6 separate regions of the Homo sapiens genome follow, and all the other regions are reported to be linked to region 6. The links are microRNA targets in miRTarBase. Many come from high-throughput screens and were not tested one by one. Region 6 holds a microRNA gene; each other region holds the end of a gene's coding sequence.
Evidence for each region. Region 6 holds the annotated microRNA hsa-miR-656-3p (AAUAUUAUACAGUCAACCUCU, at 3,565-3,585, shown strand). A microRNA usually pairs through its seed, bases 2 to 8, with sites in the 3' UTR of a target mRNA and lowers its output. Matches are read on the target gene's strand: a 7mer-m8 pairs with bases 2 to 8, a 7mer-A1 pairs with bases 2 to 7 and ends in A, and an 8mer does both.

Region 1: miRTarBase lists FYB1 as a target of hsa-miR-656-3p. Seed matches in the 3' UTR shown: 8mer at 4,287-4,294 and 7mer-A1 at 2,574-2,580.
Region 2: the mRNA of LRRC31 is a reported target of hsa-miR-656-3p. Seed matches in the 3' UTR shown: 7mer-A1 at 638-644, 8mer at 662-669 and 7mer-m8 at 704-710.
Region 3: the mRNA of SCAMP1 is a reported target of hsa-miR-656-3p. Seed matches in the 3' UTR shown: 7mer-m8 at 1,632-1,638 and 7mer-m8 at 3,629-3,635.
Region 4: the mRNA of ZDHHC5 is a reported target of hsa-miR-656-3p. Seed matches in the 3' UTR shown: 8mer at 902-909.
Region 5: miRTarBase lists ZNF703 as a target of hsa-miR-656-3p. Seed matches in the 3' UTR shown: 7mer-m8 at 3,887-3,893.

What each region holds. Positions count from the first base shown.
Region 1 is chr5:39,102,764-39,107,837 of GRCh38, forward strand. FYB1 (FYN binding protein 1) reads right to left here. Exons shown (of 19, transcript NM_001465.6): 19 at 2,489-4,702. The coding sequence ends at 4,680. Among named protein-coding and RNA genes, the nearest start is that of RICTOR, 31 kb to the left of the region's middle.
Region 2 is chr3:169,835,394-169,840,458 of GRCh38, reverse strand. It overlaps LRRC31 (leucine rich repeat containing 31), which reads left to right. Exons shown (of 9, transcript NM_024727.4): 9 at 146-1,287. The coding sequence ends at 477. It overlaps LRRIQ4 (leucine rich repeats and IQ motif containing 4), which reads right to left. Exons shown (of 6, transcript NM_001080460.3): 6 at 2,686-2,980. The coding sequence ends at 2,828. Among named protein-coding and RNA genes, the nearest start is that of LRRC34, 25 kb to the right of the region's middle. RefSeq lists an enhancer at 4,084-4,163.
Region 3 is chr5:78,474,785-78,479,858 of GRCh38, forward strand. SCAMP1 (secretory carrier membrane protein 1) reads left to right here. Exons shown (of 9, transcript NM_004866.6): 9 at 720-5,074. The coding sequence ends at 884. Among named protein-coding and RNA genes, the nearest start is that of SCAMP1, 120 kb to the left of the region's middle.
Region 4 is chr11:57,699,511-57,704,584 of GRCh38, forward strand. ZDHHC5 (zDHHC palmitoyltransferase 5) reads left to right here. Exons shown (of 12, transcript NM_015457.3): 12 at 356-1,672. The coding sequence ends at 521. MED19 (mediator complex subunit 19) reads right to left here. Exons shown (of 5, transcript NM_001317078.4): 4 at 4,792-4,886; 5 at 4,200-4,596. The coding sequence ends at 4,528. Among named protein-coding and RNA genes, the nearest start is that of MED19, 10 kb to the right of the region's middle. RefSeq lists an enhancer at 4,625-5,074.
Region 5 is chr8:37,697,736-37,702,809 of GRCh38, reverse strand. It overlaps ZNF703 (zinc finger protein 703), which reads right to left. Exons shown (of 2, transcript NM_025069.3): 2 at 2,791-5,074. The coding sequence ends at 4,136. Among named protein-coding and RNA genes, the nearest start is that of ZNF703, 4.5 kb to the right of the region's middle. RefSeq lists an enhancer at 3,152-3,663.
Region 6 is chr14:101,063,202-101,068,275 of GRCh38, forward strand. It overlaps MIR656 (microRNA 656), which reads left to right and starts at 3,523; the gene lies at 3,523-3,600. It overlaps MIR541 (microRNA 541), which reads left to right and starts at 1,294; the gene lies at 1,294-1,377. MIR409 (microRNA 409) reads left to right here and starts at 2,099; the gene lies at 2,099-2,177. MIR412 (microRNA 412) reads left to right here and starts at 2,246; the gene lies at 2,246-2,336. It also overlaps MIR369 and MIR410.

The sequences.
Region 1 (5,074 bases), not on the chromosome of region 6:
CTCAAATTTGCAAATAAAGCTGAAGATTGTGCTTATGCTCCAGACTACTTTAGGAGAATGTACATATAGCCTACTGTTTTCCTGGAGAGAACAGAATGGAAACTGTTCATGATTGTGCAATGTCATCTTGTACAGATCATGACCTTCCCAGGATGGCCCACAGATAACCACGAGCAAGGCAAAATCACAAAGGCTGGCTATGTTGGCCTGAAGGACGATAAGTATTGGGCCGCATTTACTCCAGAGGCCTCAGTCTGGTCGGCTGAATTTTTGTCAGGCTTGCATCATGTTCAACCTCTTTCTCTGACCAATCTTTCCTCCTCCCCTTCCTTTCACAAATATTGATCCTTAATAGACATCTCTTCCCTCAAACTCTATCCCATCTGTTTCCAGAAAGCCTGATGAGCGACATCATTGCAATCAGCTTGGTCTTGATTGCTTCAGTGAATCTTTCTCAGGTGGCCAATGACTTACATGTTGGTAAATCAAATAGAGATTTCTTGGTCATCAATTTATTTAACCTCTTATGGCATCTGAAATAGTAATTAAGAAAAAATTACAGTGGCAGCCCACAGGATTAACACAGTCCTTGCAGACACATCATTCATTGATTCTTTAATTATTAAATATATAATGAAGGGCTTCAAATATGCCATAAAGTAAGAAATATAAAAACAAATAAAACAAAATTATTTGTTTTCTAGGAGCTCTGTTTAATGATATTTCATCAGATAGAGAGTAAAAGAGGAGAAAGAGAGCAGCCTCCATGTTTTGAGCTTGGATGACTGGATGATTCAGATGTCACTGAGGTAAAATCTATAGGAGGGATAATTAGTTTTAGGGGGAAAGAGAAAAGGTTCCTTTCTGAGTTCCATGAGTTACAGGTACCTGTGGGATATCATGTAGAGATGACTTTAGAGAAATCGTAGCAGAGATCGAGTTGCAGTAAGTTGACGATTGAATATACCCTGAGCATATGGCAAAGGATGAATAGGGATGGGAGATTCTCAAACGTGGCTGAGCATTAAACTCATATTTAGAGTTAAGGAAAAATGAACTCCAAAGTTTCTTCCCTAGAGATTTTTATTTGTTGATCTGCAGAGAAAAAAAAAATGTGTATTTTTACAAACTCTTCAGATGTCCTGTGTTCAGTTTGGATTCTCTGGAAAGCAGACACCAAGAGGGAGTGAAAATGGGAAGGGAGGAATACATGTGTGGGTGGGGAAGAATACATGTGTGAGAGAAAATGGGAAGGGAGCTGGAGAAGGCTGGAGGAGCTGACAGACTGCTATGCAAGTCTATACCAATAAAGGCAGGAGGGAGGATGGTTGGAAGTGTCTCAGAGCACTCTGCAGGTTTAGCAAGCTTGTCAGGGAGTCCTCAAACTGAAGTTGGCCATGTGAGGAGTTCTGTGTCTTTCAGGAATAGGCCTGCCTCAGTATCCCTGCAACACTCAGTCATTAGCTAGAACAGCCTGATCTTGGCACAAACATTGTGATGGATTTCAGAATGCAGCAGCTGGGGACTTTTGGACAATTAAATGCCCCATAGTTGGAAGTCTTTGAGGCACATTCTCCTGGCTGCCACATATACCCTGCCATTTTAAGACAATGAAATGAGGGGAAAAAAATCCAAACGGGCTGTAGCTGGACAGGTTTTTGGGCCCAAGGCAAAGTTTCATGTTGCTTTTTAGATGGGAAAGATTTCAGTGTTTGTAAGCCTAGAGAAAGGAATCTGCACAGTGGGAGAACTTAAAGATAAAGAAGAGGGATAGCCAGAGGGAGGCAGAAAAGGAGAAGGAGAATGGGAAAGAATGAATTGTAAAAGACAAACACTCCAGAAAAGGCAGGAAGAAATGGGATCCAAAGGTTATGGCTTTGAATTTAAGGCATGACATCTTATTCTCTGGGACAGTGTCTGGATATGGGTTAAGGTCAAAGGTTGTAGGGAATTGAAAGGAATTGCGTTTAGTTATCTTAATTTCTGACACAAAATAGGAGTCAAAGTATTAGGAGTCTTGGTAGAAGGTTTGGTCTTGAAGAGGAGATATCCCGTCTTCTGAGGCTGAAGCTAGAGTCAAGGTTGGATGCAGAGAAAGACTGTTTTGTAGATGTAGGATCAAGTTAAGAGAGAGGAAGCCTGATGGCCTCAATATTAAAAAAATATATTTATTTCTTTTTTTTGAGACAGGGTAAATTTTTTTGAGACAGTGGCACAATCATGGCTTACTGCAGCCTCGACCTCTCAGGCTCCAGTGATCCTCCCACCACAGCCTCCTAAGTAGCTGAAACTACAGGCATGTGCCCCCACACCCAGCTAATTATTTGTATTTATTGTAGAGACAGGGTTTTACCTTGTTGCCCAGGATGGTCTGGAACCCCTGGGCTCATGAAATGTGCCCTCCTCGGCCACACAAAGTGCTAGGATTACAGATGTGAGGCACCGCATCTGGCTAGCCTCAATTTTTTTAATGAAGTAGGAGGCAAGGTTATCCATTGAAGGTATTATTTATTTGCAGCTCATCTTAAGTGACAAAATTCCATACAGAAGACTATAACAGAAATCATATTTAATATATTAAAATTAATACTTCAAATATCTTTCACATTAAGATGATTATCTATTGTGTAAATCTTTCCTAGGTATGTGTGTCTGTTTCTTGATGTGTAAACCAAAACTCTGAAATATTCTCTTGATCTAACTTTGACTTTTAAAAACTGACATTGTACTGAATTTACATAATTCTCAATCAGAAAAAAAATTACTGTCAGACTGCAATGCAAGTCTGCCCCAATGAAGGCAGGAGGAGGGATGGCTGGAAGTGTCTCAGGGCACTCTGAAAGTTTAGCAAGCTTATCAAGGAGTCCTCAAACTAAAGCTGGCCAAAAACTTCAGCATAAAAACTATCCTGTCTGTGTATTATATATATTTATTACCAAATTTAATAAACAAAAACCACTTTTGAACCAGGTAATTTTATCTAGTGTGAAAAGAAATTAATCACATGGTCATATACTGGCTAGTGCTCTCTAAAAGTAGACATTAAAATATTTCATAATTGGAGGGAATCTTTGGAGATTAGTGGCATCTAATCTTGGGGCCTCAGACACCCAAAATCTATATATTGACCAGTGGAAGTTGATGATTTGTTATCAAATTTCAAAGCACCTAATGGAAACCCCACTTCATCTCTGTGAAGATTTTCAGTTCCTTTACAGTTATTTGAAATTATTTCAATTCTGTGGAGCCACTTCAGAAACTCCAATGGGCCTTTGCAATATTAAAATGTGGAGAATGCATTAATCATTATTTAATCAATGAGTTTAAAAAATAGACAAAAGCTTCTGAAACATGGGACTGAAGTAGGCGGAGCATTATAAAAGCCTAAGGTAATTGGTAGTGAAGAGTTGGAAAAACTTACTTAGTCTAATATTGTAATTTACAGATAAGGAAACTGAGAAGATAAATAATTTATTCAATATCACTCGATGGTTCATTAGTAGAAGAGCCAGCATTATGATGTACTCATTTTGTACTCTAGGAGTTGTTAAAAAGCACTTAATATCTTCTTTTCTTGGGTGTTAGCATTTTTCATTTTTTAAATCATGCTATTTAGTGTTCTTAACATTTGAAACCCAAATGGTTCACATTTTGTTTTTGGATTGCTTTGGGAATGAGTATGTACTGTTAGAGAAGGGCCCAATCCAAACACTAGAATTTTAATAATTTCTACTCCCTCTGCTGGCCAACTTTCCAGTAAAATGGATTTTAAAAAAAGAGAAAAAAAAATCTAGCGGTAATTGAAACAAAAACAAAAACTTTAAAAAGTGTCTTCATTATAAAGAGGTGCCATGCATAAAAGCCTAGGTAGTTTCAAGGTCCATTCTTCCATTCCTCATGATTTTAGGGTTATCCTCATTCAGATCTACTCTAGTTATAATAGTACTTTAAACAGAGCACAGAATTAAACCATTAGTATGTGAATCTGCAAAAAGAGAACTTGTTTTAGACTCTTCTACAGTTTAGACTTCAATGTGCATACTAAATGCATAACATTCGTATCAAATAATTAACATTTATATACAATTAACAAATAAGGACAAATTTTATACAAAACTTCTACTACTGCTATAATTTTTGAAAACATTTAACCCACTAGCAAGAGGTAAGACAGCACTGCCTTTTTAAAAGACAGGTCACTTGAATAGAGAATATAAGATATAACCATAAGTAGAAGTATAAACAATAATTTTTCTTCTTGTGGAATGTTTTTAAATTTCCTTTCTTATATTATTATTCTTCCTTAGGTTTTTTTAGACAGGTCATTTCTTCCTGAATGATTTTCCTTTTTCTTTTATTTTTATTTTTTGAAGGAGGATTATTTACTGGTGGTCTAAAAGAAGTACCTTCAACTTCTTCATAATTGTAGCCAAAGCGGAAATGGAATATTTAATAATTCTTACATCTCACTAATGTAGTCTTCTGAGTTAACAATTAAGCAGAGAGATTATTTTCTATGTTCAAACTTTAAACACTTTGTAAAGATAATTGGGATTTCATAACAAATGATAATAAGTGGTTTTGTGCATTAATTTTCTTGATACCCAATAACATGCCAATTAAAATCCAGACTTCACATTGGCACCTAATGAACACAGCAGAATGACCAAAGTTGAGTGCTAGTCATTGTCATAGATGCAGCCTGAAAGGAAAAAATACAAATTTAAATATAGTTATTAAAAACATATTCTCTAAGTATTCCAAGTTTGGAAATGTGGGTGATTCATACTCTCCTGGTTAAGGATTAAAAAAAATAGAACTGGCTCACTTTATAAAAAATGAGTTAAATGGAAGATCATATATTTAACTTTTATTATTTAGTATATAATTCAACAAAATTTCTGGACAGATTTATTCTCTATTAAAATGAGACTCAAGATTATTTTATGTGGCACTTAGTCATATACTTTTTGGTAGTCACTCTGAACGAGGTTGAAGATATTAAAGAGCAAGACTCATAAGTTTAAAAGACTAAAGGAAATCATGATCAACACTGCATCATTTCAGTTAGATT
Region 2 (5,065 bases), not on the chromosome of region 6:
TCCTGAATAAAGCTGCTAATAACAAATCATTACTAATTACTAATCTTGTCATTACTATTCCTGGAGATAGTGTTATGGGAAATGGGAATAGCCATGGCAGACAGTATTCTTGTATGTTAGCATTTAGAGTGATTCTGTTTTCCAGCATCGGTCATACAGACGGGTCATCTGGCCAAACTGCAAAAGCTGGACCTGAGCTACAATGACAGCATCTGTGATGCGGGGTGGACCATGTTCTGCCAAAACGTGCGGTTCCTCAAAGAGCTAATCGAGCTGGATATTAGCCTTCGACCATCAAATTTTCGAGATTGTGGACAATGGTTTAGACACTTGTTATATGCTGTGACCAAGCTTCCTCAGATCACTGAGATAGGAATGAAAAGATGGATTCTCCCAGCTTCACAGGAGGAAGAACTAGAATGCTTTGACCAAGATAAAAAAAGAAGCATTCACTTTGACCATGGTGGGTTTCAGTAAACTGATTTCCCATGTCCTACTAAGCTACAAACCATTCTCCAAAGGAAAAGAACATGAACGAATTCCAGAGTCATGAACTGAATTTCAACTTCTGGGCCATTTAATGGGACTTATATTACAAGAGCTTTGTAAATATATATATATATTACATATATATATGTAATATACATATATACACATATATATAATATACATATATAATACACATATATATGTAAATATATATATAATATCTAATATGAGCATGCCATTATTCTCTGTCTATGAAACAAAAATGGCATTTTTCAATGGATTTGTTTTGGATATATAATTAGTTCATTTGCTGTTTAGAAGCCTTGCCAAAAGTGTTTAGATTTTGGTACTGCAACTGCTTTCCTCTTGCCCAGAAATGTTTTGCCTCTTCTTTTCCTACAAGTTAAATGTTCTAAATATAAAGGGGTATGTGTGTGTGTGTGTAATTCTAATGTGAAAGGCACTAGCTGTCTAATAGTTTCATGTATCATTACTATTACTATATGTATCTTAATGTAGTCTATGTAGGTTTTTATCAGAAAGTGTACCTTTCTATGGTTTATTATTTTATATTCTGGTGCCTTTTATCTCAGATATAAACCATGAACAGTAATGATAGTCACTGACATATAAATCTTAGTAAAAAGTGATTAAAAATCTAAAACTCAGTATGAAAAACATATCTTGTTAGAATAAATTAAAACCTTTTATTGTTTAAAAAATTGTTAACATATTGCCTCCAGGCATTTCTTTGAAATGGAATTTGCTTCATAAAACTAATTTAATTCGTTAATGACAGTTTTGTGTTGCTCTAAACTATTTTTGAAATTTTTGATTTTCTTTTGCTAGAGCATGAAAGTCATTGCATGGCAGAGATGTTTGTCTGCACATTTCTATTCTGACAAGCTCTAGTCAAATTATGTTTTGCTTTCTTCTACTACACTAATAATTAGTATTGCAATCACTGCCTGAAAGACATGCAAATGTAAAATCAACACTACTCCAAATTAAAAGGTTTTCAGGATGAGGAGGTTTTGAATGATGTAAAGGGGATATTTTGGGTTACATGATATAAAAGAATACCATGAATATCATGAGCATTCCCATGCATTCCATGAGTATCTATGCATATGCAAAAACCTATGCATGAATGTTCATAGCAGCTTTGTTCACAATAGCAAAAAAACTAGAAACAATGAGTGAAAGGTTAAACAAACTGTGGGACTATGGAATACTCCTCAGCAACAGAAAGGAACAAACCACTGATACATGCCCCCAGTTCGATAGACTTCAGGTGGATTAGGCTGAATAAAAAAGCCAATCCCAGTTACAAACTGTGTGTTTCCATTTATGTGACATTCCTAAAATGACACAATTATGGATCTGGAGAACAAGTTAGGCATTGGGAGAGGAGTAGGCAGTAGGTATGGCTACAGAGGAATAGCACAAGGGAAACTTGTGGCAATGGAACAATTCTATGTCTTGACTGTGATGGTGGCTGCACAAAACTATATGTGACAAAATTGCATAGGATTACACAAACACACACACACAAATGAGTGCACTGTTGATTGTACCAATGTCAATCTTCTGGTTTTGTTATTGTGCTATAGTTATAAAAGAGGTCAGCGTTGAGGGAGGCTGAGTAGTGCCTGGACCTACCTGAACATTTCTTTGGAACTTCCTGTGAATCTATAATTATTTCACAGTAAAAGTTTTAAAAGTAGGCTGGCTGGGTGCAGTGGCTCACGCATGTAATCCCAGCACTTTGGGAGGCCAAGGCGGGCAGATCACTTGAGGTCAGGAGTTCGAGACCAGCCTGGCCAACATGGTGAAACCCCATCTCTACAAAAAAAATATAAAAGTTAGCCAGGCATGGTGGCATGCACCTGTAGTCCTAGCTACTCGGGAGGCTGAGGCATGAGAATTGTTGGAACCTGGGAAATGGAGGTTGCAGTGACCCAATATTGCACCACTGCATGCCAGCCTGGGCAACAGAGTGAGATCCTGTCTTAAAATAAATAAATAAATAAAAGTAGGCAAATAGTATAAAGAACCCCTGCGTACTCATCACCTTATTCTAGTTATCAATGTACGGCCAATCTTGTTTCACTTGTATTCCTACCCACTTTCCCCTCCCCCTCCCATATTATTTAGAAGCAATTCCAAGGTGTTATATCATTTTATCCATAAATATTTCAGTAAAAGTAAGAATCATTTATTTTTACACATAAGTGTAATTTTATGAATAATTTTAATGTAGTAGGCATCTAATTCCTAGATATTTTGTCTTCTTAATCTATCAAGGTCCATTACCCCAATTTATCAATTTACAGGATTATTTCTTTTTTCCCTTTCCTGGTTTTCCTTTTACATCCTTCTTTCCTTTCTTATCTTTTGGAGAGGTCTTTCCTTTCTTTTGTGGTTTTAGTAGTTCACCGAATTTCCCAAATCCTCTCTGTACCATTGTTCCACGCCACCATGCCTGAATCTGAAAACAAGATAAACCCAAATTCAGCATCGGCTGGTATCACAATGAACTGGAAATTGTTAAATCTCTTTATTCTGATACATGGTCTTGAAGACGTGGAGAGAATGGGATGTGATTAGAACTCTAAATTTTATTTTCTATCTTTCTCAATTGGCTAGGCATTCAGACAAATTTTTTAAAAAATGCATTTATTGTTTTTATGTGCCAGTGCCTGTTCTAGACTTTTGGGCAACAGCAGAGAAATAACTGTCTCAACTTTATGGAGCTCACATTCCAGTGAGGAAGAGACAGTACAAAATAAACACATGAATGTTCAATTTGTCAGACGGTGATGAGTGCTATGGAGAGTGACCGCACATGGTGAGGGGATCTGAGTGCCTACGCCCTGCCTTCCTGCTCCTTACTGGGCTGTCTGTGCTCCTGCCTAAAGCCAGCCCTCACTTGTTCCCTGGATCCTATTCCCTCCTACCTACCCAGCAACACCCTTCCTCTAGCAGCAGACTTGTCCAGTGGCTCCCCATTTCTCTCTGAATAGAAGCCAAAGTCCTTATATGGCTTACAAGGCCCTCTCTGATCTGCCTCCCCAATCCTGACCCCTCTAACCTCTTAACTCCCTTTTCCCTGGCTCACTCTGCTCCAGCCATGCGGGCCTCCTCCCTGCTCAGACACATAGGCACAGTTGTGACTCAGGGCCTGTATATTCGCTGCTTTCTTTGCCTGGAACTCTTCTCAGTATTCAGATGGCTCACCCCTCCGCTGCTTCAAGGATTTGCTTGATTGTCATTGCTACGGACTGAACTGTGTTGCCCCAAATTCATATGCTGAAGTCCTAATCCCCAGTGTGAATGAATTTGGAGAAGGGGCTTTGAGGAGATGATTAGATTTATATGAGGTCATAACAGCAGGGTCCTCATGATGAGATTAGTGGCCTTATAAGGAGAGATATCAGAGAGTTAGCACTCTCTAGTGCAATCTCTCTCTCTCTCTCTCTCTCTTTCTGTTATATGAAGACACAGGGAGAAGTCAGCTTCTACAGGCCAGGAAGAGGGCCTTCACCAGACTCCAATCATGCTGATACTCTGACCTTAGACTTCCAGCCTCCAGAACTGTGAGAAAATACATTTCCATTGTTTAAGCCGCCTGTTCTATGGTATTTTGTTGTGGCAGCCTAAGCTAAGACTGCCATTTTTTCAGTGAGGCCTACTCTGACAATCTTATTTAAATCAACCACTTCTCCACCTCCACACACTACTGGCAATTTCAGTTCCCCTTAGGCTAACTTTTTTTTTTTTTTAAACAGTAGCACTCTCTAACATAGTATTTCATTTTATGTTTTCTATTTCATGCTTTTATTTCCCTCCTACTAGATTTTAAGTACTGTGAGGACATAAATATTTGTTTTGTTCACTGATGTATCTCAATGCTTAGAACAGTGTCTGGTGCATAGTAGAAGCTCAATAAATGTTTGTTGAATGAATGAACAAATGAAAGAGGTGGCTGGGGGTATGCTGTTTTATATAAGGTGGATCAAGGAAGGGCTCTCTGATAAGAGAATGTTTAAGCAGAGATGGAATGAAGTGAGGGCCAGAATCTTGCTCATATCTGGGGAAAGCATCTCTGGGCACAGGAAGAGCCAGTGTTAAGGCCCTGAGCCAGGAACATGCTTGGTCCTTGGAGGAACACCAGATCTGCTTGTGACTGAAGTCCAGTGAGAGTAGGAAAGAGGAGATGGGGAGTGAAAACAGCAGACCAATCGGGATCCAGGGAACAGCACTGCTCTCTAGAGGCATTTTGGAAATTTATGGGGCTTTTTGTTGACTTAAGGTTAAGCAGTCTTCAATTGTGTGGCCTATACCCTGGTCTACAAAGCCTTTCCAACAGTGTGCAGGCATGGATAGGTTGAAGACAGTCCATTTCCTGAGCTCCAGCTTCCATATGTACCCCTTCCTAAAATCATCCCGAGAACATAACTGCAGATCCCCCATCCCAGTTGCCCCTGTGATGCTCCACAGAGGAAGGGCACAGCTTGCACCCACCTGAATCTTACTATGGTGCATTGCCCTGGACTCCAAAAATCATTAGGAC
Region 3 (5,074 bases), not on the chromosome of region 6:
TGGCTGATGTTATGTATTGATGGACTCATAGTTTAATTATGCAGGTTTTAAGACATATACTGATAGAAAATTTTTGAACCCTACTCCTGAAAATAAATTCCAAGATTTGAGTGATTAATCAGTATGGAGAAACAATTCCCAGAAGTGTTTCTTTGTGCATTCTTTAGGACTTGACCATACACAAAAAGTTAAATTGTATACAGAGTGCATAGCGGCAATATGTTGAAGGACATAAGTAGTGCTTGGTACATTAAATGATAAAATGATCTCATTTGATTATAACAGGGCCTGTGGTGTATATGTAGATAAAATGGAAATAGATAAGGTACTGTTCTCTCTGAATAGTCTGGGGTAATAAATTAATGTATTGTTTCTTGTTATTATGTTTAAACCATTTCATTGTAATGCTGTAATAATTTCACTTGACTAATTGGGTGCAGAGGAAAATACAACTTTTTGAAGTTGGCTAAGAAGTTCTTTATTTTTGGTTTAAATTAGCATAATTATCTCTTCTGCTTGGAGAAGAAAAGGAAAACCTATATTAAGAAAATGTTTAAATACAATTATTGTGTGTCAGTTTGGTGGCTAATATTCTTGATCTTAGGAATCATGACTACAATCTAGTATTTTTATGTTTGATTAATGTTGAGATTAAGAGCTGCTGGAAATGAATGCGTAGGTTGCTACTTACCTTCTCCCACTTTTTTGTGCCTCTGTAGGTACATGGACTATATCGCACAACAGGTGCTAGTTTTGAGAAGGCCCAACAGGAGTTTGCAACAGGTGTGATGTCCAACAAAACTGTCCAGACCGCAGCTGCAAATGCAGCTTCAACTGCAGCATCTAGTGCAGCTCAGAATGCTTTCAAGGGTAACCAGATTTAAGAATCTTCAAACAATACACTGTTACCTTTTGACTGTACCTTTTTCTCCAGTTACTGTATTCTACAAATATTTTTATGTTCAAAACACACAGTACAGACAGCATGGATATTTCCTGTTCACTTGTGCATGGGCTAAAACCAGGAAAACTTCCTTGTCTTATTACTTTACCTAATAGTTTCTTAATATTTCAGTGCCCCTTGCAGAAAAAATATTACATGCTAAATAAATATTCTCCATATTTTTGGGGGATGACATTCAGTGAATTATTTCAGTGGTGACCCACTGAAAATTAATAATGGTACTTATGATTAAAAACGCATTTAATACTAACTGCAGTAGTTCTTTCAAGAATCTTTAGAGATAAGGATTGCACATTGGAAAAGTAAACCATGTTTCATTCCTTTTTCCCTATTTATATTGAAAGAAATAGGCCAGCAGAGACTTAGGGATTTTAAATTGGCTTGCTTTTTAGCTGTTTCAGTCACCAGTGAAGAGCCTATGTGCATTTTGTAGTAGATAATGTAAAATTTGTCATCTTTTTCTTTTCTTTTTTTTAGAATAGCTGATATTTTGATAACAATCTCTAATTTGCATGGGCACCACATTTCTTATATTAAAAGAATTAGTGTTTTGGCTTCTGTACTGCTTATGGTTGTAGGATTCAGGGGTTAATGGAATCACAGAAATGATATTCTGCAAGAATTTCTTTTAAATAAAAAGTTTGGGGGTGCAATATAAGAAGTTTATATAATATGCAGTACATTATCCAAAAGAGAAGGTAGTTAATGCAGTAGAAAGTAGTGGTAATAATTCCTTTTTAAAAAAATTTCGGTAGTCATATAGTAACATTTTGCTATATGAAAACTTTGGTATATTCTGTGGTTACAACTAAGATTGTGTCTGGCAGCTCTTTTTTGGGGATGTGTGTGTGTGATTTTTAACAGAGGTATTAAAGGCTAGCCTAACTGTTGTCTAAAAAGATTGTACAGTATTTAAGGGATTTTCCTTTTAGCTTTTCATCTCCAGTGGCATTAAACATAAAAAGACCCTGGCATTTTTTCACATACTTGAATCCCTAAATGCACCTGTCTTTCACTTTTTGAGACAGACTGAATATATCTAAAATTTCCAGCAATAAAAAAAAAAGCATTTAACTTGCACCAAGCAAGAAAATATAAATACAGTTAACTGCATTAAGATAATCACGTTAAAATTGTTACTATGCAGCACAGAACTTCATTCTTATAGTATTCTTGGGTTCAACCTTTGAATCAATTTTACCACTGATTAAATAAATGACTCAAAGACATCTGTAAGTCATGCTGCTGTGTTTTGAAAGTCTTTAACTAAATTAAGATTGCAGAATGATAGTGATTATTCAATTAGATTTTAAGTAAGGATTGTGATATTAGAGGCTGGAAATCCTTATTTTTTAAAAAATCAGATAGGCATAAATAGTTAAATCACTTTCATTCTCCCCAAACCTGTAGTTACAGAAAAAGTTTTATGCTAGAGGTGGGATGCCAAGTTTTCACTATCCATGAAGCAGCGCTGCATGTCACTAGGTAACACAGATCCATCCAGATGGTGTTTACATTTGATTTATTTGGGATCTTATTGACATCAGGTATACTTGGAAGACATTTCTTTTATTCTTCAGCGTATGAATTTAAAGCTATTTTTTGTAAATATTTCTAATCAGCGATAATTTCTACCTATGTTCTCAACCAACTTAGCCAGTTTGTTTTTCAGAGCCTGTAGTCTTATTGGAAATCTATTTTATCAGTGTGCTTTATTGAGTGTGGATTTTGCATACATTCAAAACATTAACCACAAAATACAGCAAGTGCACCTATATTCACCATTAACTTATATCCCAAGTCCATTTTTTCCTGTACACTACAAACAAAAGATATATTAGAGACTTTTGAAAAATGCTGAAATACTTTGCTTCAGAATTGGAATGTTTATATTATGTAGAAATCTTCAAAGGTAGCATTATTAAATAGCAAAGAATAATTAGAACCCACATATCTTTTTTTGTGTGGATGGGGAAAATGTTTTAAAATCCAGTTATTTAATATGAGTTTGAGAGAGAAAATTGTTTTTTAAAAATATATGTGCATTGAAATGATGGCAATGCTTATAGTATGATCAAGTATGAAAGGAACTTTAAATTCTTATATTTACTTTTCTCTCAGTAAATTGTTAAATTTTCACTCAGCAAAAGATTGGCATTTGTTAAGTGTTCTATATTTAGTACTAAAATCACAGTCATGAAATCATAGTCATAAAATGGTCTTCACACAGCAGTCATCCGTGTCATTTATCATTTTGTAATATTAAATTATGGCAATTTTATTTCAAACTAAAGTTTGAACACCGGAAAGTCATTACTCAGTGATTTGTAATTTGGGACTTGGATTATTTATCTAGAGATGTTTGTATATTTTGTCAGTAACTAATACTGCGCTGCCATCATGGTGACTGTCATGGTTCTACAGAAATGCCCTCCATGTGTCCCTCTAATGTTGCATGTTTCAGTGGGTTGGAAGTTTTGTATATTTATTGTATTAACACAGAGTGTCATAAAATAAAATGCTGTTTACTGGATGTTTGTTTGTATAATTTTGAACACTATAATAGCAATTCAGAGACAGACATTGTTAAAGGTTTGATGTATATAGAAATTCCATGTTTGATTTTTTAAAATATGTGTATAAGTCTGTCATGTGCTAAACAAAATAATATGAAAGACCTAGTTAAAAATTCTAACCAATGTAAAATGACCATTTTTCTGTTGCATTAGACCTTTACAGGTAATGGAACATGAGCTTCACCCATATTAAATATTTTGGCCCCTTTAAGGTCAAAATACAGATCATCTAGAAGTTAGATTCAAAATGGAAAACCTATTCATGGCTCAGATTTTTCATTGTGGGTTAAAAATGGGTGTCTCTGTACTAGTATTGTATTTATTCAATTGAACTTGTATTCTGATTTCTATCCTTGCTACCTATTGCTGTTTTATGTACTGATGAAAGTACCTATTTGTGTATATTGGATTTTTCACTTGGTTAGCTAAAGAAGATGTAAAAATATCTAAAATAATGTTCATGGTGAATCTTATTTTGAGAAATACATGTTAAAAAAGGAACAGTATTCTTTATTTTCTGGGTGTTATATTTAAAAAAGCAAGTTTGGATTTTTACACCTAATTTACTAGGAAAATATTTTATTCTGTAATTCATGTTAAGATTATGTATGGTTTGCATTTTAAGGGGATTTATGTTAGGTTAATTAGTTGTTTCTGTAAATCATTTGTAATAGCATAGTGCTTTTTACTCATTGCTGTATCTTTTTCTGAAAACACTGTTGTTAACATCTAATTCAGTATCCTTATTGGTACAAATCTGTGTTTGGCATGACTGTTTATATACAGAATTTGTTACATTTTGAGCATTTTTTCCCCTGCTTATGTATACCTTAGAGTTACCATGGCTGTCATATACCATTTCACTATATCTCCTTTCAGTTTTTCCTTAAGGAAAATGTTTAGAGGAATTTGTTCATTTCATGTGATTAAGCCCTTTAGAGATGAAATAAGATTGGTTAATTTTAAAAAAATTGAGGATGGTTAAAAAATAGAAAACACCTTACTTTGATACATTTTAAAGTACAATAGTATACATTTATTTAGAGTAGACTAATGTGTTTAAAACATGAGTTGTTTTAAATACTTTTTTATTGAGCTAAAAAGTTTTATCTCACATATTAAGTATTACAGAAAGTGAAGTATTTTGGCTAGAATTTTAGGGCATATTTTATAAAGCAGCATGCCTGTAATATTGGTGGGTATTTTTAAACTTTAGGACTTTATCACAGTATGTAGAGAGCTAGAAATAAATCTAGAAACTTTCTAAGCCAGGTATTGCCACTAACCTGTCTTATATAAGCAGATACCTCTTATTTGAAGATTGTAGGAAAATAGAGAAAGACTGTTCTCCAGTTTTCTCACCCCCGCTGTGGGTTTTATATTTACAATTTAACTTTGGGGTTTGGGTAAGACAAACATTTAATGTATAGGATTTTGGCCAGGTGTGGTGGCTCACGCCTGTAATCCCAGCACTTTGGGAGGCCAAGGTGGGCGGATCACGAGGTCAGGAGATCGAAACCATCCTGGCTAACAT
Region 4 (5,074 bases), not on the chromosome of region 6:
TAGGTGGACCCAGGGGTATCCTGGTAGCTCTTTATTTTCACTTTGACTCTACCTGCCTTCATGGGCAATTCCTGTTAAGAGACTGAAGATTAATACTTTTTCCATAATGCTATCTTCCTAAAAGTATTTGCTTGGGAGTAAGTACATGTGATAGCTGTTACTAGAGAGTAGTAGTACATAGGAGAGATTGGGAATCAGGCTTATTTTAAGCAGGGCAATAAAGGGGAATGTTTGGGTAAGAAAGTATGGATATAGAAAAGAACATCATTTTTTTCTCTGAACCTTTGAAACTGTCTCCCTTTCCAATGTTTTCTGTCCCATTTCCTGACACCTACGTCTTGTCTCTTCTTTCCAGAGATGAAGTACAGCTGAAGACCACCTACAGCAAATCCAACGGGCAGCCCAAGAGCTTAGGCTCAGCCTCCCCTGGCCCAGGCCAGCCACCTCTCAGTAGCCCCACGAGGGGAGGAGTCAAGAAGGTGTCAGGGGTTGGTGGTACCACCTATGAGATTTCGGTGTGAGCCTTCGGCACCTCCCCTCCCCAACGCCTCTGCGCCTACACCAAAGGGCCCCAGGTGGCCACCTTCCTTCCCTCAAGGGGCTCCCCTCCCGTGCATGGACATTTTTTAAACCACCGATTCCAAGAGGATGAGGAGTGTTTTCTAAAATGCAGTAGGCTTGGGGAGTCGGAGAGTTGGGGCCCTGAGACTGGGGTAGCAACCCCCCCTTTTATCTTTTAAGACCTTCCCTTCCTTGATCCCTGGACCAGACTCAGTGGACATTTGTGCAATTGCTCGCCCTGGAGGGAACCAGATCATTTTTAAACCAGAAATAATTTTTTTTATTATTGTTACGGATTCTATTTTTTTCCTCTTCTGCGTTACCAGGTGTGTGTGTACATATAATATATATATATATATATTATAAATATCAAAGAAATTATATATCTATCCTGGGATGGGAAAATGAGGGAGGGATACATATACGGAGGGGGATCTTACTCTTCCCATTCCTCAGACCAGCAGGAAAAGAGGGGAGACGTCAGTCTTTTTCCTGTGGTTCCCTCTCATTTGTCCCAGTTACTAACTACGGAAATAGCATCCTCTGCTGGTGCTAAGTGTGATTAGGAAGAAGCCTGGGGAGAGGTGAGTCTGGAATTTTGGTCACAAGAGGGAAGGACTTGGAGAGGAGAATTAGTTTTCTAGGCTCATTGGCATTTAGTTTCCCTAGGAAAGGGGTCAAAACTTCAAGACACTGGTGGTGGTGGGAGATCAGGAAAATAACTTGGCCTAGCTCAAACAATATTGGATAATCCCCTCCTTGGGGGAGAGGGATTAGAGTGTGCTCCTACTGGCCCCTTGGAGCCTCCCCTAGCTTACACAGTTAACTTGATTTTAAAATCCAAGGCCAGGAGAGAAGAATCCAAAAAGCAATATTTTTCATCACATGCCAAAAACGGGGGATAGAGAGAAGGAGTGGCAGGCCTAGGCCCCTCCGATTGTCCCTTGGGGGTTACCCCTCAGCCCACCTCACTATGGTGCTGGGTAGAGGGGATACCTGGGTTCTAACCTCTAAATAGGGGAGATCCCAGCCTCCACAAAGAGGCCCTTTTATTTTTTATTCTGATTAGCCATTTTAAACCAACGAGGAATAAAAAGAAATCCTGATCTAACCAGCGCCCCCTGACTTGTGTTATTTTGTCTGGTTGAGACAGGGTGAACGATCTCTGGTGGGAAGTTATCAGTGACAACCTCATAAACTTCTCTGGTCCCAGCCCATCTTTAGGCAAGACTATAATGAAATTAGCCACTTAACAACTAAAAAAATAAAAAAGAGACCCAGTGCGGTGGCTTATACCTGTAATCCCAGCACTGAGGGAGGCTGAGGCAAGAGGATCACTTGAGCCCAGGAGTTCCAGACCAACCTGGGCAACATAGAGACTCCATTTCTAAAAACAACAGGTCCTGTTTTTATTTGGGTGATTTAATTCAAAAATTCCTGAAAAAAGGTCTCTTGAAATCACCAAAACTGCTTGTTATTTGAAAGCTTAGAGAACTCTTAAAAGTTGTTTCTTTCAAGAGACAGGGCCTCATTCTGGTTGCCCAGGCTGGAGGGCAGTGGCACAATCAGATCACTATATCCTCAAATTCCTGGGCTCAAGGGATCTTCCCACCTCAGCCTTCTGTGAAGCTAGGACTTACAGTTGCATGCCACCATGCTTAGCTAATTTTTTTTTTTTTGGTAGAGATAGACTCTCAACCAATTTTGCCCAGACTGATCTCGAACTTCTGGCCTTGAGCAATCCTGCCTTGGCCTCCCAAAGCATTGGGATTACAGGCATGAGCCACCATGCCCAGCTACAGTTGTTTTTTAATACAGGATTTAGTCTCTGGAAAGTAAAGCTAATTTTGGAAACAGCCAAAGGTGACATAGTAACAGGTATGAAAGCCTGTTGAAGGCAGGTTAACTAGATATCGGTGTCAGTTCAATTAGATATATTGCATTTTATTGGACAAAAGCTGTGCTCTAATTTTAAATAGGTATCCTTAGACACTAAATCTCAAGCAGTTGACCAGAGCCCTTTAATTACTCAAAATTTAAGAATATAAGCTCTTAGCCGGGCGTGGTGGCTCACGCCTGTAGTCCCAGCACTTTGGGAGGCCGAAGCGGGCTGATCACAATGTCAGGAGATCGAGACCATCCTGGCTAACACAGTGAAACCCCATCTCTACTAAAAATAACAAAAAACTAGCCTGGCGTGGTGCGGGCGCCTGTAGTCCCAGCTACTTGGGAGGCTGAGGCAGGAGAACGGCGTGAACCTGGGAGGCGGAGCTTGCAGTGAGCCGAGATCACGCCACTGCACTCCAGCCTGGGTGACAGAGCAAGACTCCGTCTCAGGAAAAAAAAAAAAAAAAAAAAAAAAAAAAATATATATATATATATATACTCTTATTTGGGTGCAGTAGCTCACACCTGTAATCCCAGCACCTTGGGAGGCTAAGGCAGGTGGATCACCTGAGGTCAGGAGTTCAAGACCAGCTTGGCCAAAATGGTGAAACCCCGTCTGTACTAAAAATGCAAAAATTAGCTGGGCGTTGGTTATGGGTGCCTGTAATCCTGGCTATTTGGGAAGCTGAGGTGGGAGAATCACCTGAACCCAGGAGGTGCAGGTTGCAGTGAGCTGAGATTGCACTACTACACTCCAACATGGGCGACAGAGCAAGACTCTTTCTCCAAAATTTAAAAAAAAAAAAAAAAAAAAAATATATATATATATATACAAAAATTAGCCAGGTGTGGTGACGCACACTTGTAGTCCCAGCTACTTGGGAGGCTGAGGTACAAGAATCACTTGAACCCAGGAGGCAGAGGTTGCCGTGAGCCGAGATCATGCCACTGCACTCCTGGGCAACAGAGCAAGACTCTGTCTCAAAAAAAAAAAAAAAAAAAAAAAAACCCAGCAAACTCTTATTCTGAAATCCTGGATTTAAACCAGCTGAATGAGTGGTTTTCCACCCACTGATTCAGGAACAACCTTGGCTTTCACGGCAACAGATTTTAACTGTGTTAAATTTAAAGTCAGATTACATTAATTCAGGTTTTCTCATGGATGTTTTCAGTTACCTAACCAGCTGGAAAAACTAAAAGTGTTTTTTGTTTTTGTTTTTCACATTTTGATGGTTTAGGCTACATTTTGTTGCTGTTTTAGAAATGTTTTCACATCAGCTAAATAACTTTATTGTCTTAACTAAGGACCGAAGCAGGTCAAAAGTTCTTGTAAAGAGAAGGGAAGCTTTACCTTTGCTTGCCAGAAGTTCATCTCAAAAGATCACAGGCTTCTGACCTAAAGAACCAATCTTGTTGAAACACATGGGTGACTGTCCATGTGTTTTCAGTTGGCTATTCTCTTTCGACACAAAATTGACCTAGAATACACTGTTGAGCCCTACCTGGATCAGCTCTTCAGATGGAGCCTGAGATCACCGAGGCGCTTGGTTCTCAACATAATGGGCAGAGTGTTACGTGTCTGCTGTGGAGTATTAGTAAGCTTGGGTCACTTTTCATTTTGGTTGGTTCCCTGCCTGCTAGTGAGATCATGTAATGACAAGACCCAAATCCCCTCAAGTCTTAGGAATGCCTTGTCTTAAATCCTGATTCACAGAAAGGCACATACCTCTTAACAGGCAGTCACACTTCAGCCAGTTTGATAAATGTAATTTTTTTTTTTTTAAAGAAAACACAGAACAAGTCCTAAATCAGACAAATTGCACAAAAGAGAGAGAAGAAAATTGTAAGCTTCCTGGGAGAGGAAGAGATGTCCATGAGAAAACCAACTGGGATGAGCCTACAAAAGCATGTCCCTCTCTCTCCTAATTTACTTAGTCTCAACTGAGCCCAACAGGAGCTGGCCTCTGTCCCAGCTGCAGGATGCTCCCAAGGCAGTGTCCAAGAGCCTGGAAGGCAGCTTTTATCAGCAGGTTCAGTACAGCAGGAAAAGCCATCCTGGCAAAGAGTCCAGTGGTCCTATTAGCGTAGGCTGCTGCTGCTGCTGGCCTGGGAGCTGCCCATACCTGGGTGGTCTGGACTATGTCGATTCTGGGGGAGAAAGAAGCAGGGTAAGAACAACTAGGAACTAGCCTTGGCTTTGATCAGGCTGTACAGGAGAAACCTGCAACCTGCCTTGGGTTTTCAATCTTGGGTCCAACTTGAGGCAAAGAACTCTAGGGTATTTAGGACAGGGGTGAGATCTGGGGAAACTCACTGGGTTGTGGCAATAGGCCTCTACTCTACCTTCTTTTTCTTCTTCTCTTTCTTCTTCCTTTTCCGTTCAGGATCCTCTTCTTTTTTCTTTTTCTTCTTCTTGTGATCTGAATCAGATGGTGTTTCTGTAGGAGACATTAGGTACCTATCACCTGTAAAGCTCAAAATCCTCTACTGTTATGAACCACTGAAGACTACAGGAAAATCCCAAGTCGGGGCAACTGCTTTTGTCCAAATGGCCAGAAAGGATACAGAGGTGCTGCTAGAGTCCCTGTCCCAAGTCCCAAGAGACCACAGTACATTGGTTTCTTCT
Region 5 (5,074 bases), not on the chromosome of region 6:
CCACCGTAACCCAGACATACATCAGGAGGGAGTTAGTTCATATACCCAGAGATACAATCACAGTATGCTAGGTAGGGCAGAGCAATTATGGCTGCAGAAAGATGGGGAAGGGCCCCACACCTCCCGCTTGGGCTATGAATTTCTTAGGAGATGGGTTTGCGGGTGTACAGTTGGGAAGTTAAAAACTTAACACCACATGATTTTGTTTGAGTCCAGCCTATATCCAAGGGTGAGTCTTTCCCCTCTTTCTCCTCCTCCCTTCCTCCCATGGCTGCCACAAGGCCACAAAAATAACCAGGCAAGAGGTGTGAAAATAGGACCTGGAGCCAGGAACGTCCAGTGTCTCAAGTTCCAGCCCTGTGGCTTCCACCCTTCCTGGTGCTTTGGGAACACCGGCCCCATTTCTGGCGCCTGGGACAGATTAGGAGAAAGAGGCGGAGGAGGGCTGGGAAGAGGAGGTGGAGAAATGGAAGGTGGAGGTGACCCTCAAAGAAAGGGTTGCTGGAGGCATTAATTATTCAAATAAGCACTGGATAGGGGAGCACCACCTCCATTAAGATGGCAACTTTGTTTAATGGGAATTAAGCTATTGAAAGTAACAAACTTTTCATCAGCTTATTAAAACTGTCACATTTCTTAGGTGGGGAGAGCCATCTTTTCAGAGTAGAACTGGACACTCCAGACTATGTGACCTGCCCTTTGCGGCCACAATGGTAGTTGGGGGCAGCCTATTCCCACCAGGCCCAACAGTGAACTTCCCAGTCACCAAAGGCCACCAATACATTTTATGGGGGAAACTCTGTAGTCTAAGGAGTTCTCTAACTGCATTCTTACACCTAAGGTATAAGCCAAACACCTTTTAGAACAGTTTCTTTTGGTATAGGGAATTTGCTGGTTGTGCGTCCCTTCCTTCCTTCCTCCCAACAAGAGGAGCCCTTTGGTTTGTAGATAGGGAGGTCTGAAGACTTGAAGTGTAAGAAAGCAAAGTTTAAGTCGCCCTACAGAGGGAGCAATTTCCATCATTTTTAGCAGGCATTAAAAAACATAGTGAGGGGGTGGGTCTCTGAAGGAAAGAGGGGCCTTCAGAGGAAGGGAAGATGGCAAAGAAATAATAAACAACGAACAAAACAACAGAAAAAGAAACAATAAAGCCACGAGTCGCTACATTTAGTTCGTTTAAAGATTCGGGCCAGATTGAACCCCGAGAAATTGGATAATGCTGGTTTCCCAGGAAGACCCTGATCTGGTCTCAGGGCACTTTCTCTAATTCGGGTTTCCCAGTGCCCAGTGGTAGGAGCACCCCAGGATCCCTTTCCTTTTGCTAGATCCAAAGATTTGGTAAAACACACACACACACACACACACACACACACACACACACACACACACAAACACACACACACACACACACACACACACACACACACACGCCCTGTCTGTCGTCGAGTTTGTGGACAACCAAAAACAGCGCAGAGAAACCGGCCCCATCCTACGCACTGCACTTGACCTCGGGCCACAGACGTTTCAAAAGCATGCACCTTTCAGAGCACGAACTCCCAAGTCGCATTCCTTACAGAAAAAGCAAACAGCACAACCCCAACGACAGATCCCACGAGGAGCGCGGCCAGGAAGCGGCGCAGGAGGCGGTTTTGCAGAGCGTCCCATTGGCCCCGCGCGCCCAGGCCCTTGCGCAGGGAGCAAGCGCCCCCGGCCCGATGGAGCGGGGTCCTGGCGTCGGGCAGCCGAAGTCTGAGCCGCCGTGCCTTGGCGGGCGCAGCCCGCTCTCGCTGCTGGGGGTAGGGCAGCGAGTCTGCATTGGGCTGGACGTGGCTGGGCCTCCCAGAGCTGTCCCTTCTCTCCTCCCGCCTTGGACACTCGCGCAGGGCCTGTCTATGGTACAGGGGGCAGGCTCCCTGGCCAACACGTCAGTAAACAGCACCCGCCCTCTCTTGCCCGAGGATGCAGAGGCCAGTGTCAGTCGTGCGAGCTCAAGAAAATGGACGAGCCAGGCCCAGGGGCCCGGCTCCTCCGGACTGAGAATGGCTTCAAGGTCTTGAGTCATCGTCGCATCTTCTCAGCAAAACCCAAACCCTGTTTCGAAGTTTCCGGGGCGCAGATGACCCAGGTCGACAACCCAGCGATGGCTGAGGGGAGCCCCCAAGCCTTGAGAAGCAACCCTCTCAGCAGGTGCCTTTACCCTCTGGTCAGGAGAGAGGAAACGCCCCACAAAAACAGCAGGTAGGAATCCTTCGCGTTCAGAAGATGAGAAGAACCAAGGTGCCGTCGGGGCTAGTGCGGGCTGCGCCTTCTCTCCGAGGCCTGTCGCTCGTCTTCCTGCCACCAGGTGGCGCCAAAGGCGTTTCGTCTCTGCCCGCCAGGCCGCCGGGCTCCAGGACTGCGCTGCTGGAGTCTCTGCCGGAGCCCTTGGTGCTGGGGTCCTGGGGTCCCTTCTTAGCCCCCTTAGCACGTCGCATCTGGGCCCAGAGGAAAATCCACTTTTACACACACCCTCCACCCTGGCCCCAGGAAATGTCAAGGCCTTTGAAGTGAGGCTGGGAGCTACATAACCAACTGGGGAAAAAAATTAAAAGGTGGTTTTATGTTATTTGTAATGCGTTGGCAGAAGTTTTGTTTTTTCTCCCCCATTTCTTGAGGAAAGGCATTAAACTCGTCCTTGAACGGAAATCACAGAAGGAAACCATAAGGCATTTTAAACAAGAATAAAAGAAGGGCATCTGCTTAGGTGTCTGGAAGAGGGTGGGCGAGGCAAGAGAGAAAAACACCACGGTGTGAATATAGCCAAGTATTCCATTTATTAACAAAATAAGTCTTACCAAGGGAGAGCTCTGTTCGTCCCAAACAGGCCCCGCAGCCCCCGCGCTGCCGCATCAGACCAGAAGGAGGGAGGAGTGGGGAGAAGACCCCAGTCGCTGGGGGGTCCACTCTGGGGGCTCTGCCGGGCCAGGCCTAGGAGAGGGCGGGGGCTGCTGTGATCCGAGAGCTCCCTGACGCCCCAACCTTCCCCGAACGCAGCTAACGAGCTCGTGACATCCGCTGACATCGCCACCGGTCTGCTTTGGAGGGATCTAGCGAGAGTCACCTACCCCACCCCTACTGCCAGGGGAGGGGTCGTTGCCCCCACGAGGGAGAGAAAAACAAGGACTATAATGCACTTCGCAAAATGTAAGGGGCCGGCTTCACGCCAGCGGGGCCTTCTGGGACTTTGAATTCAACCAGGTGAGCGCTCCAGGTGCCCCGACAGGCGCACTGTAGCCACTGGGTGTTAGGGGCGGGAGTCTGGAAGGTGACGGTAGACGGCCACTTGGGCCCTTCTGGGGGCGAGCCTACTGGTGGGGTCAGGGCTCTCCGTGCTCAGAGCAAGGTAGAGGAGCAAGGCCCTACTTTTGGGGGGCAGGGTCCAGACCAAGGACCCTATGCGCGGAGGGTGGCGGGGGAGGAGTCCCGGAGCAGTGTACCAGGTCAATAGAGCTCCAGGGCCCCTGCCACCCAGGTGGCCCCCTCCACCCCCAAAATGAGTTACAAAAAAAACCTCCTCTCTGTTACTTGTACAACAAAGGAAAAAACAAAACAAAACAAAACAAAAAACAAAAACAGAACCGCAAATGGAAGGAAACAAGAGGGAATGAAGGGGGAAGAGGGAAAAAGAGAAGGCGGAAACGTAGTTTTAAGTTAAGACTCATGCAAGAAACTCCCCAGGAAGGGAAAACAAAACGTCTAGAAGAACCCAAAGACCCCAACTCTCCCTCAAACCAAACCAATCAAAACCAAAAAAAGAGGAAAAGGAATAAAAAATGTAAAACTTATATCTAAGAAAAAATAACAGAAAGGAACAGGGGCGGGGATCATGTCGTTATTTGTGGGATTAATATTATTATTTGGGAGAACACAGACTTTTTGCATACCATTGACTCATGTGGGCCGTTAATGCACTTATATTCCCAGCTTGTAAGCTAACATTATAGTAAATAAATACACAGTCCGGTGGGGAAGGGCTGGGTGGGGAATCCCGGCAGGGTCAAGCAGTAGTGGAGGTTGCAGCGGCGACGGCAGGTGGGGAGGGAGGAGGAGGGAGAGGGAGGAGGGTGAGGGGGCTGGGGTGGAGGAAGAGCTGTAGTTACTGGTATCCCAGCGCCGAGGCTGAAGCTAGTCTCTGTCCATACAGCGCGTATGGCGAATAGTAGGGTCCGGCTGTGGGGAGGGACGGCACGGCCAGGCCCCCCGCTGTGGATAAGTGGCTCTTGCCATAGGGGTGGTACCGGCTTAGGCCCAAAGTGTGTGGATTCCGCAAGGACAGCGACCCGGGGCTGCCGGGGGCGGCGGGCGGGGGGAGGTGCAGATGGCAGGAGGCGGCGGCGGCGGCGGCGGCGGCGGCGCTGCCCAGGCCCGAGGCCCCGGGGTAGGCGGCCAGAAGTTTCTCGGCTCCCGGCAGGGCCGTGTGGGTCCGTAGGTGGCTGAGCAGCTCCTCCGAGGTGGCGAAGCGCTTGTCGCACGGCCCACTGGCTGCCACCCAGTTGCAGCTGTGCGGCAGCGGTTCGTTCTGCAGCATGAAGCCGTAGGTGTAGAGCGGGTGGCCGGGGAGCGCGGCCTGGGCGGCGCTGGACGAGAGCGCGGCGGGCTGCAGCGGGTGCCCGGGGTACACCAGCGGGTAGCCCCCCGCCTTCAGGCTGGGCCCGGCAGGGTCGTGCGCGCTGCAGGTGGAGCAGCTGGAGCCGCCGAGGTGCGAGGCGCCGTGGTAACCTCCCAAGCAATAGGGGTCGCGGCATAATCCCTGCAGGAAGGAGGGCGGGGAGGCCCCGGTGAGCGGGCTGGAGCTGGGGGGCTTGCCCGGCGGCAGGCCCAGGCCCCCAGACAGCTGGCCTCCCACGAGGCCGGACTTGCTAGGATCCAGGCCAGGCACGAACTGAGACGGGTAGCCGGCGTAGGCGCCCACGATGGAGCCGTGGTAGCCAATGCTGGAGGGCGGCAGCGGGAACACCGAGTGGCCCGGCTTGTAGGGAGACACCGGCGCCACGTGGCCGGCCCCCACCAGCGCCGAGGGCGGCTCGGACTTGCG
Region 6 (5,074 bases):
CTTGCTGCCCCAAACCTTCCCGAGAGCTTCCCGGAAAGGTGTGCTGACTTCAGGCGTGACACACTGGTAAGGCGTCCTCCCGGGGATCTGGGTGCATGTTGTCCCCAGAGCATTCATACGTAAGTGACAGGCATCACCTGGTCTCCCTCCATCCCCACGGAGGGTTCTGGGTGAGACGCTGACTCCGGAGGGAAGCAGAAGTTCTACGGTCAGTGGGGTCTGGTCTTTCAGGACAGTTGCTTCTGTGAACTCAGAAAATCTGAGACAGCTCTTAGTTAATTTAGAAAGTTTATTTTGACAAGGTTGAGGATACACCCGTAACACAGCTTCAGGAAGTACTGTGGTCAAGGCACAGCTTGGCTTTATACATTTTAGGGAGACATGAGACATCATTCAGCACATGTAAGAAGTACATTGGTTTTGTCTGCAAAGGTGGGACAACTTGAAGCGAAGGCAGGAAGGAGGGAGCTTCCAGGTCACAGACAGGTGATACACAAATGATTACATTCTTTCGCGTTTCTCATGAGCCTTTCCAAAGGAGGCAAATCAGATACGCATCTGTCTCAGTGAGCAGAGGGATGACTTTGAATGGAATGAGAGGCAGGTTTATCCTGAGCAGCTTCCAGCTTGAGTTTTCCTTAGTGATTTTAGGGGCCCGAGATAACTTTCCTTTCACACTTCCAAGGCTATTGATGAACACACAGGCATCCAGGAACATTCTGGGGTTCAGTCCTTCCTCAGACTCTGCTGTTGATACCTTACATGGTTCCATGCTGGCCCCAAGGACGTGCCCTTCGTTGGTGCCGAATGTCATTTGGTCATAGAGGCTGAAAGTCATTCTGGAGTTGATGTTTCCAAGGTCAAAAACCTTGCTGGGGCTGTGGAAAGAGCTCGTTGTTTGCTGGCCTGCTTTGTTGGTGACCAGCATTGCACATGGCTTTCTTTTCAGATCAAACCCTACCTGGAGAATTTCCAGAAGCAACAGCACCCTCAGGAGGCGGCCTGCAGCCGGAGCCCTCTCCAGGGCAGGTGCCTGAGGGCCGCCCATGGGACAGGCCCGATTGTACCCACGGTGCATGTCATCTGTTCCACTCCTGCTGACTCCGGTGCGTTCCGGGACCACCTTGGGAGGTGATGCCTGCCCCAGGAAGGAGGCTCTGATGCAGGTCAGTGCCCATGGCTCCTGAAGGGAAGTCGTCTGTGACATCTTTTCTTTCTTTACAGCAGGCCTCGCATGGCTGGCCTCTTGCTCCACTTGTAGCAAGGCGCAGAGGGCTCTCTGAGCTCATGCCAACGTCAGGGAAAGGATTCTGCTGTCGGTCCCACTCCAAAGTTCACAGAATGGGTGGTGGGCACAGAATCTGGACTCTGCTTGTGGCATCCATCGTCTGGCCCGATGCTTGCTGGCTGCCCGCTCCAGGAGGCACCTTCTGGGTGTTCTCTGAGTCTGGGGAAGGTTGGGTTCTGAGGTCAGGGCTGCCCTGACCCTTGTGAAGAGAAGACATCTGTGACTCACCTGCTTTCTTCTGCTGCATTTATCCCCCCAGTCCCTTATTTTGAATGTCTCACTTGCTTTATGAGGCTAATCAGATGGTCAGCCAGCTGTTGATAACTGTGAAGTTACTCTTTGAGGGATCCTGGGGTGATGCCTCTGTGGGCTGGAGATGGTGCTGGTGAGACCGCAGGTCTGGGGTCAGCGTTGTGCCCCGTTGAGCTCCCGCCAAAGGAATCCTCTGCTGGGAGGGAGGCTCTGTGCTTGTGCAGGGGTCCCTACAGGGTCACCCCCTCTCAGGGTCTGGGAATGAAAAGCGGGTGCGAGCAGGGTTTCATTTTCATCTTTAGCAAGGTGCCCAAGGAAGGTTGCCGTCTTTTCAGTATAAGATCCTACCTGGGTCTTGCACTCAACTTCTGGGAAGAGTCTCTAGATTCATTCTGGAAGGGGTTGGAATCGTTGGACTTGGTGATTGGGAACGTCCTTGGAGAGTGTGAGGCTCTGGGCTCTGAATGCCCAGACCTTGTGCTGCCCTTGGGGGAGGGTCTTCTGCAAGCACAGCCGCCTGCAAGCATTCACCTTAGTCCGAGCATCTGAGCCTCTCCATGGTACTCGGGGAGAGGTTACCCGAGCAACTTTGCATCTGGACGACGAATGTTGCTCGGTGAACCCCTTTTCGGTATCAAATTCCACCAGGGAGGCCGTCTTGGAGGCTGGGGCACCTCGGGGAAGGACGCCGGCATCAGCACCATTCTGGGGTACGGGGATGGATGGTCGACCAGTTGGAAAGTAATTGTTTCTAATGTACTTCACCTGGTCCACTAGCCGTCCGTATCCGCTGCAGCCTGTGGGGCCTGCGGGCCGGGGAGCCGATCGCGCTTCAGCTCAGCGCCTTTCCTGGTACTTGAAGGGAGATCGACCGTGTTATATTCGCTTTATTGACTTCGAATAATACATGGTTGATCTTTTCTCAGTATCAAATCTCACCTTGGAGGACCCGTTGGAGATGAAGCCCTTTTGAGGGTAGGAGCAGGACGGGTGCTTTGGAGTCGCTGCCTCAGTGGGGCCTGGTCACCGAGAGTGGGCCGGGCAGGGGTCTCTTTCCTGTCTCTGTGTCTTCTCACCTTTGATGTCCCATCCGTCCTCAGGACTGCTTCCCGGGGGCAGCGCTGGCACCACGGGACGCGGCAGCCACGTTCTTGAGCCGATGGCACTCTGGGTACCTGAGAAGAGGTTGTCTGTGATGAGTTCGCTTTTATTAATGACGAATATAACACAGATGGCCTGTTTTCAGTACCGCTACCGCCCGGTGGTGTGCGGGCGCCACGCCTGAGGCGGGACTTTCCAGGGTACGTGAATGCATGGGCTGGTGTGACATTTGTCATCCTTTCCCCTGACCCCCGCCATTGAATCATTTTGGGAGAGCTTTCGGGGGGCCATGTGGACTTTGGGGAAGATGCTAGGGTTGTGCACTGTGGTGGGGGGCGGTCATGAAGCTGATGAGCAATGGTGACGGGGCTCAGTCTGTTTTTCATGGCCAGTGTCATCGAGGCAGAGGACACGGGGGAGCTAGTCCCGCTGGAAGGCATCCTGCTGGAAGGCCACCCACCCCTCGCCAGGATGTTGGGGGCGGCTGCATGCATTCCCTGCACCTGGGCTGCCTTCTGCTCATCTCAGTGCTGTGAGACCCTGGGTGGGAGCTGGTGCCTTGGGTGGCCGTGTGCGTGTGCTGCTCCTTGTGGTGCCTGAGGAGAGGTGGCCTGTGTTGCATTCACAGAAATCATGACACACAAGACACGAGCGGCCTCTCTTCAGTATCAGATCCCACCTGCATGATTCCTGCACCTGCTGATGTCGGGGAGGTCCGGTTGCGCGCCCTGTGGGCCCCCAGAGGCATGGCTGGTGGCCGAGCACGCGCTTGACTTCCACCTGCAGCCCTGTGCTGGCCTCCATCCTGGAGGCGGGTGGGTGGCAGGGCCCTTCCCTGTGGAAGAAGCCTCCTCCCTGGAGTCAGTGCTGCTCAGTGGTACCTGAAATAGGTTGCCTGTGAGGTGTTCACTTTCTATATGATGAATATTATACAGTCAACCTCTTTCCGATATCGAATCCCACCTTGGATGCCTTCCTCTTTGCTGTCAACTCCAGGCAGCAGCTGGCTCTGCGCTGGTTGACCCTGTGGACTTTGTGTAGGACCTGTGTCACTTGGCCTGTTAATTTTCCAGCTCCACTCTGTTCTGGGGGGCTTTGGAAGTGTGACAGAATGGCATCCCCAATTCCAGTGTCAGCGGGAGCACCCGCCATGCCCTTGCTTCCGGTTGGCACATCCCCCAGGCTGGGCTGGCTCTCAGCTACCCGATGCTTATGTCATATTTGCACCCCTGGCCTGCCCAGACTACAGGAAGATGACCAGAGGCCTGTTTGCAGCTGACCTGGAGACTTAGTGACTCCAGAACATGCTGCCCATGCCCAGGGTCCAGGGCTGAAGGCAAGGAGCACCTCAGGAGTGACCCCAAAGAATGAGCTAAGGCTGTCCTTTATCACTCATTGTTGATCAGTGAGCTCCTGGGCTCGGGAGATCTTCCTGAGCTGGGCTCCCGTCATCCCCTAGTTGAGACGTCGCTGCCTTGGAAGTCACAGCCTGTGCCTGCCCTCCCCCTTGTCCTCCTCCTCGGGACCGCTCCTCTCCATGCCTAGCATGGGAGTGGGGATCCCTGGCACCATCCCTCTGGGCTGCCTGCTCCCACTCTCCCTCAGCACCCCTCTTCCCCAGCCCCTGGGCCACAGCCCTGCTGGAGAGGCCGCCCCACAGGCTAGGTCCCTCCAGCCTGTGGCACTTGGGTCTCCCTCCAGTGCCCCTCCCTCTGCCAGGGAGAGCATTTCCAAGTGCAGAGTCCAGCTGTTTAACTCCGCTGCCCAGGGCACCTCTGCAGGCCCCTTCCCTTGGGCTTGGTACCAAAATGATCCGAGGACCCCCCAGGCCCTCAGAGTGGCAGCCCCCCTCTTCTTTTGGAGCCACAGCCTATCCCCCACGTGTTTTCATCCTTCATTCTGGCCTTGCACATGCCCCTCCTTCCGGAGCTGGGTCCTGGGCCGCCCTGCTCTGCCCTCGGCTGCCTCCTGTCCAGGCTCTGGCCCTTCCTTCCTTAAAGGCCCACATCCTTTGCATTTTCCTTTCCCAGGGGTTCACAATTCCCAAGGGGATGGAATGGCTCTTGTTCAGCAAGGTCATCCCTGATAACCCTATAAAAGCAGCTCCCCTTGCCTCTTCCCTATCACATTCTACCAGTTGCCCCGTTACTGTTTTCTTCCTAGCTTACAGTTCTCTGAAATTGCCTAATGTTAATGTCTACCTTCTTTGTGCCCTAGACTGTGAGATTTCTCATTGGCAGAAATTTCTCTCTCTCTCTCTCTCTCTCTCTCTCTCTCTCTCTCTCTCTCATCCCCTGCTGTGTTCAGTAGCAGAACAGTGAGTGTTTGTTGATTGACTAATGGAGTCCCCAAAGGCAGGGACCGGATCAGATGAATTCCCAGGCAGGTGCTGGGCACAAAGCAGGCAGTCAATAAGATGTGGTGATGGAGTAC